2 separate regions of the Homo sapiens genome follow, and region 2 is linked to region 1. Evidence: fine-mapped expression QTL. A gene starts in region 1. The other region holds a variant in brackets. All regions are shown on one strand. Distances are between the middles of the regions.

Evidence for each region. PIP is the estimated chance that this variant, and not a neighbour inherited with it, causes the effect. A credible set is the group of variants that fine-mapping cannot tell apart.
Region 2: its variant is the best candidate, but not a certain one, in a credible set for the expression of DGKB in iPS cells (HipSci, PIP 0.67).

What each region holds. Positions count from the first base shown.
Region 1 is chr7:14,900,509-14,905,897 of GRCh38, reverse strand. It overlaps DGKB (diacylglycerol kinase beta), which reads left to right and starts at 3,147. Exons shown (of 26, transcript NM_001350709.2): 1 at 3,147-3,306.
Region 2 is chr7:15,194,643-15,200,031 of GRCh38, reverse strand. It overlaps a transcript of AGMO not described here. Among named protein-coding and RNA genes, the nearest start is that of DGKB, 290 kb to the right of the region's middle. The variant C/T (reference allele first, on the strand shown) is at 3,280.

The DNA of each region.
Region 1 (5,389 bases):
AACACCCTTATTTCCAGCTCACTTATCTTCCCAATGCCCTGCACTCACAGATTAATTCATTCACTCACGTATTCAAACGTTATTTTACTGTGCACATACCACTTTCTAAGCACTTTGGTAGATGCTAGAGACGCATGAATGAACTAAGCAAACATGGCTTGCTTTTGCTGTTGTACAGTTTGCAAACTTTTGGGTTCTCTTCAGTAAATGACTATCATTAAATTACAAAATTTAGTTTGGGAATACTTGTTTTGATGATGAAGGAGATGTAGATGAAAATTAATATGATTCGTTTCTATATATTTTCACAAATTGATGATTATGTTGAGGAATGAGTATAGAGCAAGTTCATTTTTCTCTTATTTTTTAGATTGATGAATGATAAACAGATTCCCATGAAGTTTCTGAAAATCTAGTGATGGGAGCAGAGAAGCATCTTGGAGAAATGGGCACAGTGTTGTAAGGGAGTGATTTGTAAGTTTTACCACAAAATGGAAAATCTTGAGTTATGAGTCAGGAATAAGATTCAATCACCAATCCTTAACTGAAAATTTTCTTCCTCCATTACCAAACCTTGTAGTTTTAAGAGAGTGGTTTTTTCTTAAAGTGAATCTTAGTAATGCTATAAGCTGTTAAAAAAAAAAAAAAAAAAACTAACAAGATGGATGTTAAATACTCATTACCAATTATTTTAACATCTTGTAGTTCTTCCAGCTCTACCCAGACCAGATGTTTAGACTCCTTCTTATTTATAATGAAGATAGCTAATAAATTATGTCTCTCAATAATGTTTAGAGTGTTAGTGCTCTTCCTAAATATGATTTAATTTCAAAATGGGAGTAAAGGTAAAACAAAAAACAATAACCAAAAAGATCAAAAAGAAAACCCTGCTAAACTACAAATGGCAAGATCCTGCTAGTTATAGTAAGGGATGAATTTGTTGAGCAGGGCAAGTTTAAAATCATACCATTTGTGGATAAAGTTGGCCTTTTGTATCAAAATGTATTTCTATGTGCTAGAGACTTCTTGTGCCTACTTCCTTACACTGCAGTGTACACAAGTATAAAAAAGGTACTCTTCAGACTGTTAATAATATTAATTGTGTGATACAATAATTATTTAATGGACAGACAACAAATGAAGAGAAAAATAGCTATTTGGCATCATGTTTAATTAGAATTTTGACGTTAAAAAATTCTGGATGCTATTCGCATTTAAGGTATTATATGATTTTTAAAACAAAATATTAGCCTCTGATAAAATCTGTTAAAATTGAAGTTAGGCTGGCTTTGGCAAATTGATATTTGTTGGATAATTGATAAATGCTTTGCTCATTAACTGGTCTTTGTTTAGCTAAAGGCAGTATAAACACATCAGGGAAAGATGTATTATTTAATCCTTTTGGGTTATTTTCTTCCTTCTGGGTCTTTTCTTATATTTTCTTTCTTCCGTGTTCCCCCTCTGTTTAATTTAACCCTGATTAACCCTGATTACACAAGCCCTAACAACTGGGAAAAAATATGGCCAATATGAAAAGTACTCAGAGGCAGAAATAATTAAAGGCGTGCATTACAAATAAAATCAAAAGGAATTAAGTTTATTTTTAGCTCAGACAACTGGAGGCTGAAAGTGGATTAAAAGTACTATTCAATTAAGTGATGTGTGTGTGTGTGTGTGTATTTAGGAGGGGTTGTTCATGATTACTCAATCTACAGAACAAGAAAGTGAAGACAGACTATTACTAGAGCAAATGTTACTAGTAATTAAGAAGTATTCTATTCTTTGGGGGATTTGAGAACGTCTTCCATTTCTAAGTTCTGCCGAATGTCATATTTTTTATGAGAATATGTTGGAGATTAATGAGAGCAGCCAATAAGGAGAGCAAATGAAAGTTAATAGAAGACAGAATCAAGTTGGTTTTACCAGAGTCTGTAGCTGACAGAGAGATGTTAATGCATTGAAATCATTGAGAATATTATATAGATAAGTTAAGAGCAACCACGGGACTTCTATGTCAAGATACCCCGTGTATAAGCTGGTAAGCACACTGCTTAATAACTGTCTGGTTTTGTACACAGTCCACAAAAATCTTGATTATTGACTTACTTACATTTTTCTTACCCTAATACACTATTTTACACACGTGCCTCAAAATTGTTATTTTTATCTGTGCCCTGATTGGTTACACATACATAGAGTTTCTCCCAATATTTAACTGCCTTTCTACTTCATCCATCCTCCAGTCACCTGCTCCGAGGTTACCAAGCCGGAATGCAGCAAGAGCGTCTGCAGCTGCTACAATTGGTAGAAGTGGCTTCGGCAGATGGTTGCTGAACAATGACCCACCAAGGACTACAGTTGTAGAAGGGAGAGGGGAGACGGGTATCATATTTCCTCCCTGAGATGTATAGTGAGTGGTAGTAATTGCAGTGAATCCAGCTCACTGTCTCAACAGCCTCTCACCTGCACCGTCTCCTCCCCTGTCTTATAACTGGACCAGCAGTTAAACAGCTGTATAGCCTTGTCTCCCTGTCTCATTTTCCCCTGAGCTCCATCAGCAAGAGTAGCAATAGCAGCTGGAGAAGCGGCAGCCAGAGATAGGCAGGGCTGGTGCTTGCAGCCGCGCAAATCGCCTCCTCCTCAACACACACACACACACACACACACACACACACACACACACACTGCACAGACTTCCAATATCAACGCGTCTTGACATAAATCAAGGACTAAGAGAGACTGAAGAAGAGCGTTAGTCATGGACAACAGGTATTTCATCTCTGACAAATTGTTTCCTTCAGCTGCTTACTGGTTTGGATGATAAAATAATCATTTGTGATAGCTAGCTTGAGTGGGAGTCTGGAGGACTGGGGGTGGACGCGATAGAGGAGCGGGGATGAAGTGGGAGGAGTGAGAGGTGGGGAAGGGGGACGCCAAAGATGACTTTCAGGCTCCGGAAACCTACGTCTTTCAGCCTCCGCTGTTTTTTAGTTGCAAATGATCAGAGACGGGTGAACTGCAGGCAGCCTGTGTTGCTGCCTGGAAGTAGATTTCCATCTTTCAGACACTAGTTCCAATGGGCCGGGTGTTCTGGAAGGGGGTGGCAGTGGGGAGGAGGATGCTGTGAGCAGAGTTCTTGAAGCTCCACTCCTCTGGGGAAGCCGAGCTGTGTGGGAGCCTTCTTACTGTGCCGGGAGCGTGTGAATTGGAAAGGATCCTGAGAACTGGCTAGTCCCAGTTCCTCTCCGGAAAAGCAGTGGCTCTCGCTTCAGAGATGCGCTCAGCTTTCGCCTGCATCACACTGCAGTAAGTTAAACTGGACATGGTTGGCAAATTGAGTGGCTTCTGGGTGTGTGGTGCGGGGGAAGGGAAGCTGGGAAGAAATGGGGAGGAAAGTTAGAGAAGCATAGCTTTGAATTCTCCATGAAATGTTAAATCGGTTCGTCTCCCTGACTCCTGTCCTAGTTATGCTATAGTAGGGGTGCTCTGTGATTTGCAGGCGGATGCCGCTTGTGTATTAGCTATGCAGAAAGTGCCCTGTCCATTGTGATTTTGGGCAACATAACTGATAAATGTTTTCTAAATTTAATTCCAAGAGTGGTCTCCTGAAAGTTACCAATGAGATAGCAGCTTGTCTTTTCAAAATGTAATTCATAAAGAGGCTGGCTTGGACTTTCAAATGCCCTAGTTAATTGTTACAAGTTCCAGTCCAGATTTATTCCTAATCTGTGAACTAAACAAGCAAGCAAGCAAACAAAAGTCTTCGATTTACCTTATTAAATTAAAATAAAACGTGAAGTAGGTCTCTAGATAACTGCTAGGCAACAGCCTAGGCCACACTGATGATATGATAAACATTCAAATACTCTTCAGTGGGTGCCACATGGAGGGTCCCCTCAGTTTCTTCCTGCTGCAATAATCTCCTCCACTTGCTGAACAGTCTCTTTCTTGTGATTTTAAAGTGGCGATTTTTACATAGATGGCTCTATACTTAGAAACCAAGCAGCATTGTGTTCACTGGCAGAAAATGAAGGCTTAAAACTTTTATAAAACAACTTCAACTGGTTGCTCAAATTGCAGATAACCAACTCTTTTAAAAACAGGTCAGCAAGGACCAGTCCATTGTAAAGCAAATGACCAAATAAACATGAATGCAAGCAGAATACTGAAGGTCTTTTCTAGAAAATAAATCAGAAATAATTAATGTTAAAAATGTTGGGGTACCTAACCAGGTCCTCTTGCATTGACCAGATTTTTACAGTGGTGGTGGGGCAGTGGGGGGTGGGGGGGGGTGGAAATCCCTCAAACAGAAAGCATATATTACACAAAAATGTTAGACTTAGTTGGAGGATCATTGGAGAAAACACTGTATTAGTACATTTTTCTCCAAGAAAAATTATTGACAAAACAGAAATTACCTAAAAGAGAATGTAAGATTTTAATCTGGATACGTCCATAGGCTAGCATATATTCCATAGGAGAAGAAGCTTCAAAATTTGTGAAATAACAATTGTGAAAAACAAAGTAATTCTGAAATCCTCTGTCTTTAGAAAATGGGTAACCAAGGACTACTCTTATCCTATAATTTCAGTTTTAAATTGTGCTACTCTTTCTCTAATCCACCAAATCTTCATGCTTTTACCAAAAATAAAACACGTCAAGAATGTCATTGGAATAGTCTTGGCTAATTTTCTACTCATCACGGGGATCTCCAGGTATAAAGGCTTACTTAATATTTTTTGGCATTGTTGGAGTGCCCAATTTGTTATAGGCGATCCATGCCACACACATACATAGTATCCCTGTGCATAAAGTCTACATGTGACCTTGTGAATCACTGAGTAAAATATAATGCAGGGAATATATTTGCTACAATAGTGCATACATGAGGGTGGTTAAAAATTTTTGACAGCAATGAGAAAGAAAACGAAAAGTCTATATGAAGAATAGAAGAATATGGTTGGAGCAAATTTGCAAGCAGTTCCCTAATACTCTAGAGTCAACTATTATTACCTGAAATCTTTATGTAGCTAAAGAGGAAGAAAATTAGGTTAAGAGCACTGATAAAAATTTGACAAAATTTTTTTAAATCTAGAAACTTATGTAGTTGGAGTTGAGCGGTGGCAATGCCTTTGCTTCATACTTTCTTGTCCTACTGGTAAGCAAAGCTCAAGTTATGACTGGGAAGATTATAAAAATCATTTGTGTAATAAAACAATTATTTAAATTGTTTTAACAATTTAAAACCATTGGTAAGTTTTGCTGGGATAGTGTCTGAACTAGTATCCTATGACTGATGCTTTTTCTTGCACACTATTGAAAGAACGGAGAGTTGTAGTCAGACAAGCCAGATGAAGATAGCTGCTGATCGCGAAATCTAATTCTGCCT
Region 2 (5,389 bases), 290 kb before region 1:
TTAGATAATCTCATATTAGCAATACATTATTTAATCTTTGAATGGACAAAAATATAGAGTATTAAGAGAATCAGACTGCAGGTGTCTATGTGAACTGAGGATACAGAATTGAAGCATATTTAGTTTTCAAACTGGAACAGCAGAGGAAGATTAAATTTTGCATGATGAAAAAGCAACACATTCTATCTCAAGTATCAGAAGTGGGTTTGGCTTTGCTTCATTCTTTTTATACTTCTTAATTTAACACATAGTTATAGACAATACGTAAGCCTATAACATATATTGAATCCTGCTTTTGTCCCTTAACAACAATTTTCACAGAATTTTGTATACATATACAGAATCATGTTACAGTAGGGAGCCCTCTGCTGGCTTGAAATTAGGAAATTTAAGGCATAAACATTCTCAAGACCCTGATTCTACATTCTAGAGACTTTTCAGTGGGTAAAACACATTCTTCAGTAATGGCAAAGAAAAGAGACTTTTTGCTAATCTTTACATAGTTGTTTAGTATGTCAGAAGAGCTTAATGATTCCCCAAGGAATGATACATAAATATGTGTATATGCTTTAATATATGTGAATTTATAGGATTAGCCTAAAAATGAGTTTAATAATAGAAATGTTAATAAATAATTCCCCCAAATGAGAAAAGATCCTTTTGTGGTGAAGTTCAGTTTTCTTTGAGTAAATTGAATTCTGTCTATTCTCTCTCTTCTCTCTTGGGTTTACCTCACTGTGATTGTGAATGGTTTTCTATTAGAAATACAGATATTTTCAAGATACAAATTTGTGCCAATGAAAGTGGGAGTGGTTACCAGACAGGTAATGTTCCAGACACCTCCTATACAAAAATTATAACAGTGAAAAAATTAAGACAATGAGAAATCTGACCTAACAGACTCCATCTTGCTTCTAACCTCCAAGGTGTCCTTGTTTATTCCTGGGCACAGGCTGAGCTAACTTTGGTAGGAACTTAGTTTATAGTTTGCCTTTGAAACAAAAATGATAACGGCACTTTCTTAAAACAAACCCCCTTCTTGCCTGGGGACAAGGCTGCCTTTGTGGGACTAACAAATTAGCCACAAGATTAGAAAATAGGCTTAGGAGTCATACAGCTAGAGGCTACAAGATTCGAACTCTCCCCAGTTGCTCCTAGGGATAACATCATTATTGTGAAACCTCAGATTGGTGTTGGAGATATTTTTCAGCTCCTGCACTCCATGGATCAGCTGGCACCACCCAGATGGATAAACTGACTCATCTGGTCTTGTGGCCCCCACCCAAGAACTGACTCAGCCAAGAATAGCTTCAAGGCTCTTTGATTTTTATCTCTGACCTGATCAGTGAGCACTCTCCATTCCCTGGCCCCCTACCCACCAAATTATCCTTAAAAAACCCAGTCTCCGAATTTTCAGGGAGACTGATTTGAGTAATAATAAAACTCCAGTCTCCTATTCAGCTGGCTCTGCATGAATTGAACTCTTTCTCTATTACAATTTCCCTGTCTTGATAAATCGGCTCTGTCCTGGCAGCAGGCAATGAACCCATTGGGCGATTACATTTCTAGGGCCTCTGTGCATTATTAACCAAGGCACTTTATTCTTCACTTTATTCTTTAACCCTGCTAATTTTCCAGTCCAGTTTTCTTTTGCAGAGCACTAATACATGATGACAGAACATACAGCTATTATTAATGTTGTAAATTGATCTTGAGTGATACCATGTAATGTATGCTTACTGGAAGGACTTTAACACACTCTCTCTCTGTCTCTGTCTCTCTCTCTCTCTCTCTCTCTCTCTCTCTCTCTCTCTCTCTCTCTCTCTCTCTCTCTCGGGAAAGCCCTAAAAATAGGACTCGTCAATTACTCACCACTTCTATCGGAGAGATGCAAACTGACTTTGCAAATCATATGAAGATATTTACTTTTCCTAATCTACCATAAGAAAAGATAGAGGAAAGGAGCATTTGTTTAATGAGTAGTCCTCTATTAGTATTATTTTATTTAGTCTCTACAATCCTGTTAGGAGCTGTTAACACTACTTTATAGCAGATAATTTTGAGTCTGAGGTTAAATAACTTGTACAGGCCCATGAAATGTAATAAGTGACCAAAATAAAATTTAAACTCTCTGAAGTCGAACATTGAAGTCCATGATGTTTCCCCATTCCACGATGTCAGACATCTGAATAAGGCAAGCCTTTAAAAGTATAAGCTGAGGAGTTTAAGTTCAGAGTATTTTCAATTCAATTTGATGCTCCAAGATACAAAAAAAGTTCTCAGGATAAGTATTTTAGTCATAAGATTAATTGACAGGGTGAATGAGTCCAGAACTTCTAAACCTTCTAAGAATGGCAACATCGTAAGTTTACTTATAGGATTGCCATATGTCTGAAAGAGGCTACAGGACTTGTCAGTTTCCTCCAGACTTGCTCATTACCTTAGCTCTATTAGTTATGCCATTTACTTCCATATCATCTCATTCCATCAAATTATTTTTGTTAAACTGAATCTAATCGTCTCAGAGTCCTGATATTTAGCAATATGTGCATTCCTAATCATGAATCAGATGTTCAATTAGTTGCTAAAGTATATAAACCCTTGTATTTAACATTAACAGCTTACATGATAGTTTATTAAATATTTTCAAATTTCATTTTTACTAGTGATTATATAATTTAATCCCTCAGTGTGGAATCTGCAATAGAATCATTGACTGGAATTCTTTAACATATGGTATACATTATAGTGTACAGTAATAGGATTTATTCGGGAGAACAATAGAAAATAAGCTTCCTTTTTAATGTCTCGCCCATGTTCTCATAGTCATAGACTCCAGAAACCCAAGATAAAATAGCAAAAAACAGACTAGTTTGACTTTCAGAATCTTAAAACATTTTTTATGTTATAATTTTCAGCAACATGATGGAAGCAGCTTGGCTCTATCTTAAGCCTGCCTCAGTGGAAAAAAAAAACAACAACAAAAAACGTTCTATTCATTATTAGAACATTTTTTTCAAATCTCACTCCAGTTCTGCCATCCGTTCTTCCTAACAACTTACATTCCTTCCTCCCCAAGACACAATTAGAAAAAATTAGCAAATTAAGCATTGATGTTTATCTCTTGCAGATTGTGCCTTCTTTTTGACATTCTACAACTCTAGCACTATTTATGTAAACATTTTCAACCACCCAGGCACCCCAATATCCATGAATCATAATAACTTCATTTCTTGGGCATGTTCTTTCTTCATTTTAACAGCAGTAAGCCCCAAATTA[C/T]AACTTGTCTTGATTTACATTACAGAAACCAGGAAGACACAGTCTTTGCTTTATGCATCAGGATTACCTGTGGATCTTTTTAGAAACGGAAATGACTGTTGGGAACACTGAATTTAGTAAGACTGAGGACGTGCCAAAGGTTCTATATTTTTCAAACCTCTGGCAATGATAAGCTGCAGAAGCTACAGCCAAACTAGAATGAAGGAGAACTTCTCTTGTCCCTCCTGTCAAGTTTTAGAAATAAGCAGAAAAGTTGTGCAGTGTGAGAGAATATTGTTTCTATAGCAAAGATGTTAATTAAGAGAGGTAATACTGATTAAGTAAGCATGGATATTTAGACATGCCACCAAAGTTTTCTGTTTCACATGAGATCATTTTGCATACATTTTAAAAGAAACGGAGCCAGCCGGGCGTGGTGGCTCACACCTGTAATCCCAACACTTTGGGAGGCCAAGTTGGGTGGATCACATGAGGTCAGGAGTTCGAGACCAGCCTGATCAATATGGTGAAACCCCTTCTCTACTAAAAAAAAAAAGTATAAAAATTATCCAGATGTGGTGGTGGTGCCTGTAATACCAGCTACTCTGGAGGCTGAGACAGAAGAATCGCTCGAACCCGGGAGGCAGAGGTTGCAGTGAGCCGAGATCACACCACTGCATTCCAGCCCGGTGACAGAGCGAGACTCTGTCAAAAAGGAGAGGAGAGGGGAGGGGAGAGGAGGGGGAAAGAAAAGAAAAGAGAGGAGGGAAGGGGAGGAACTGAGCCAGAAAATGTAAATACTATGTAAGCATCAGCAAGCTGGAGAGTGAATGGAGGTAGAGTGGGGAATGGAGATGTGGTCGAAAAATATTGTCACCATAGGTCCTGTTTGCATTTGTCTGATTTTTCATTTTTAATGGAAGATTATTAATAATGGTAATGATACAGGAGTTAACAAGGCATTATTTGGGCAGATTATGAGGATAAGGAAGTCCTCGGTAAGGTTTTCCTTTTAAAGAAAAGCAGCTCCTAAATCATTTTCTTTTCTAACAAAAAGCAGTCTGTAAAATCAAGCTGCAGTCATGGAAAGGCAAGCTAGAAGCTTGCACAGGTAAATGCCAGCAGTTGTGCCAATAGGAAAGGGGCTACCTGGGGACTAGGCATGTTCAAAACGGTGGTTCCATGTTCCCTTTTCTTTGCTAACCACGTGTACGGTAAGGAGCAGACAACATGGCGCCAGCCAAGTACAAAACCCATTTGCATAATAAAAAGATTAGGGTGGAGTGACAAGCTTCTTCGCAGTACTATGTAAGCGTCACACCTGGTCCAACCAATCTTTGGGCCCTATGTAAATCAGGCACTACCTCCTCAAGCCAATCTGTACAACCCTGTGCACTTTACCAGGGGCACGGAAGACCCACTGGGGCACCCATCTCTCCCTGCAAGGAAAAAAGCTATTCTCTTTTCTCTTTCTTGCTCCTATTAAACCTCTGCTCTTCAACTCACTTCTTTTGTGTTTCCATGTCCTTAATTTCCCTGGCATGAGGCAAGGAACCTCAGGTATCTATCCCAGACAATGACTGCTTTAGTGTTAAAATATACAGGGGGTTAGGTTTGGTAGATCCCTATTTTACACTTCTGGCTTCTTCCAGGGTCTCTTGTAGTAGTGTGAGGTATGTGTGCTCACTGAAGGGAGCTCTCCCTGTAACACAAAGTTAAATGTAAAAGATGTCCATACATAATGGTTTCTCTCCTCCCCTTATCCTATTCAGGCAAATCCAACCAACACATCCCTTTCAGAGACATTAGACAAATGCAACTAACACATCCCCTTCTGAGGCAGTACACAGCATGCATTTTAACTTGCTGGTAAAATGATGTCTGCTGAGACAATCGGAGCCTAAAGGGGGCTAATTCTCTCTAGACAGGGGGTATTGGAGATCATCTAAAAATGGAACCTGGCAGCCACACGGCACACTAGGAAACCTTGGCTTGGCCTACGTAATAGGCTGCAAGATGCATAAAATCATCAGGATGCCATGAGCCCCTCCCCACCAAATTAATAACTCCATATTTAGTAAGCTAAGTACTGATTTGCTTTTGAATAAAACTTATGCTAAACATATAATTT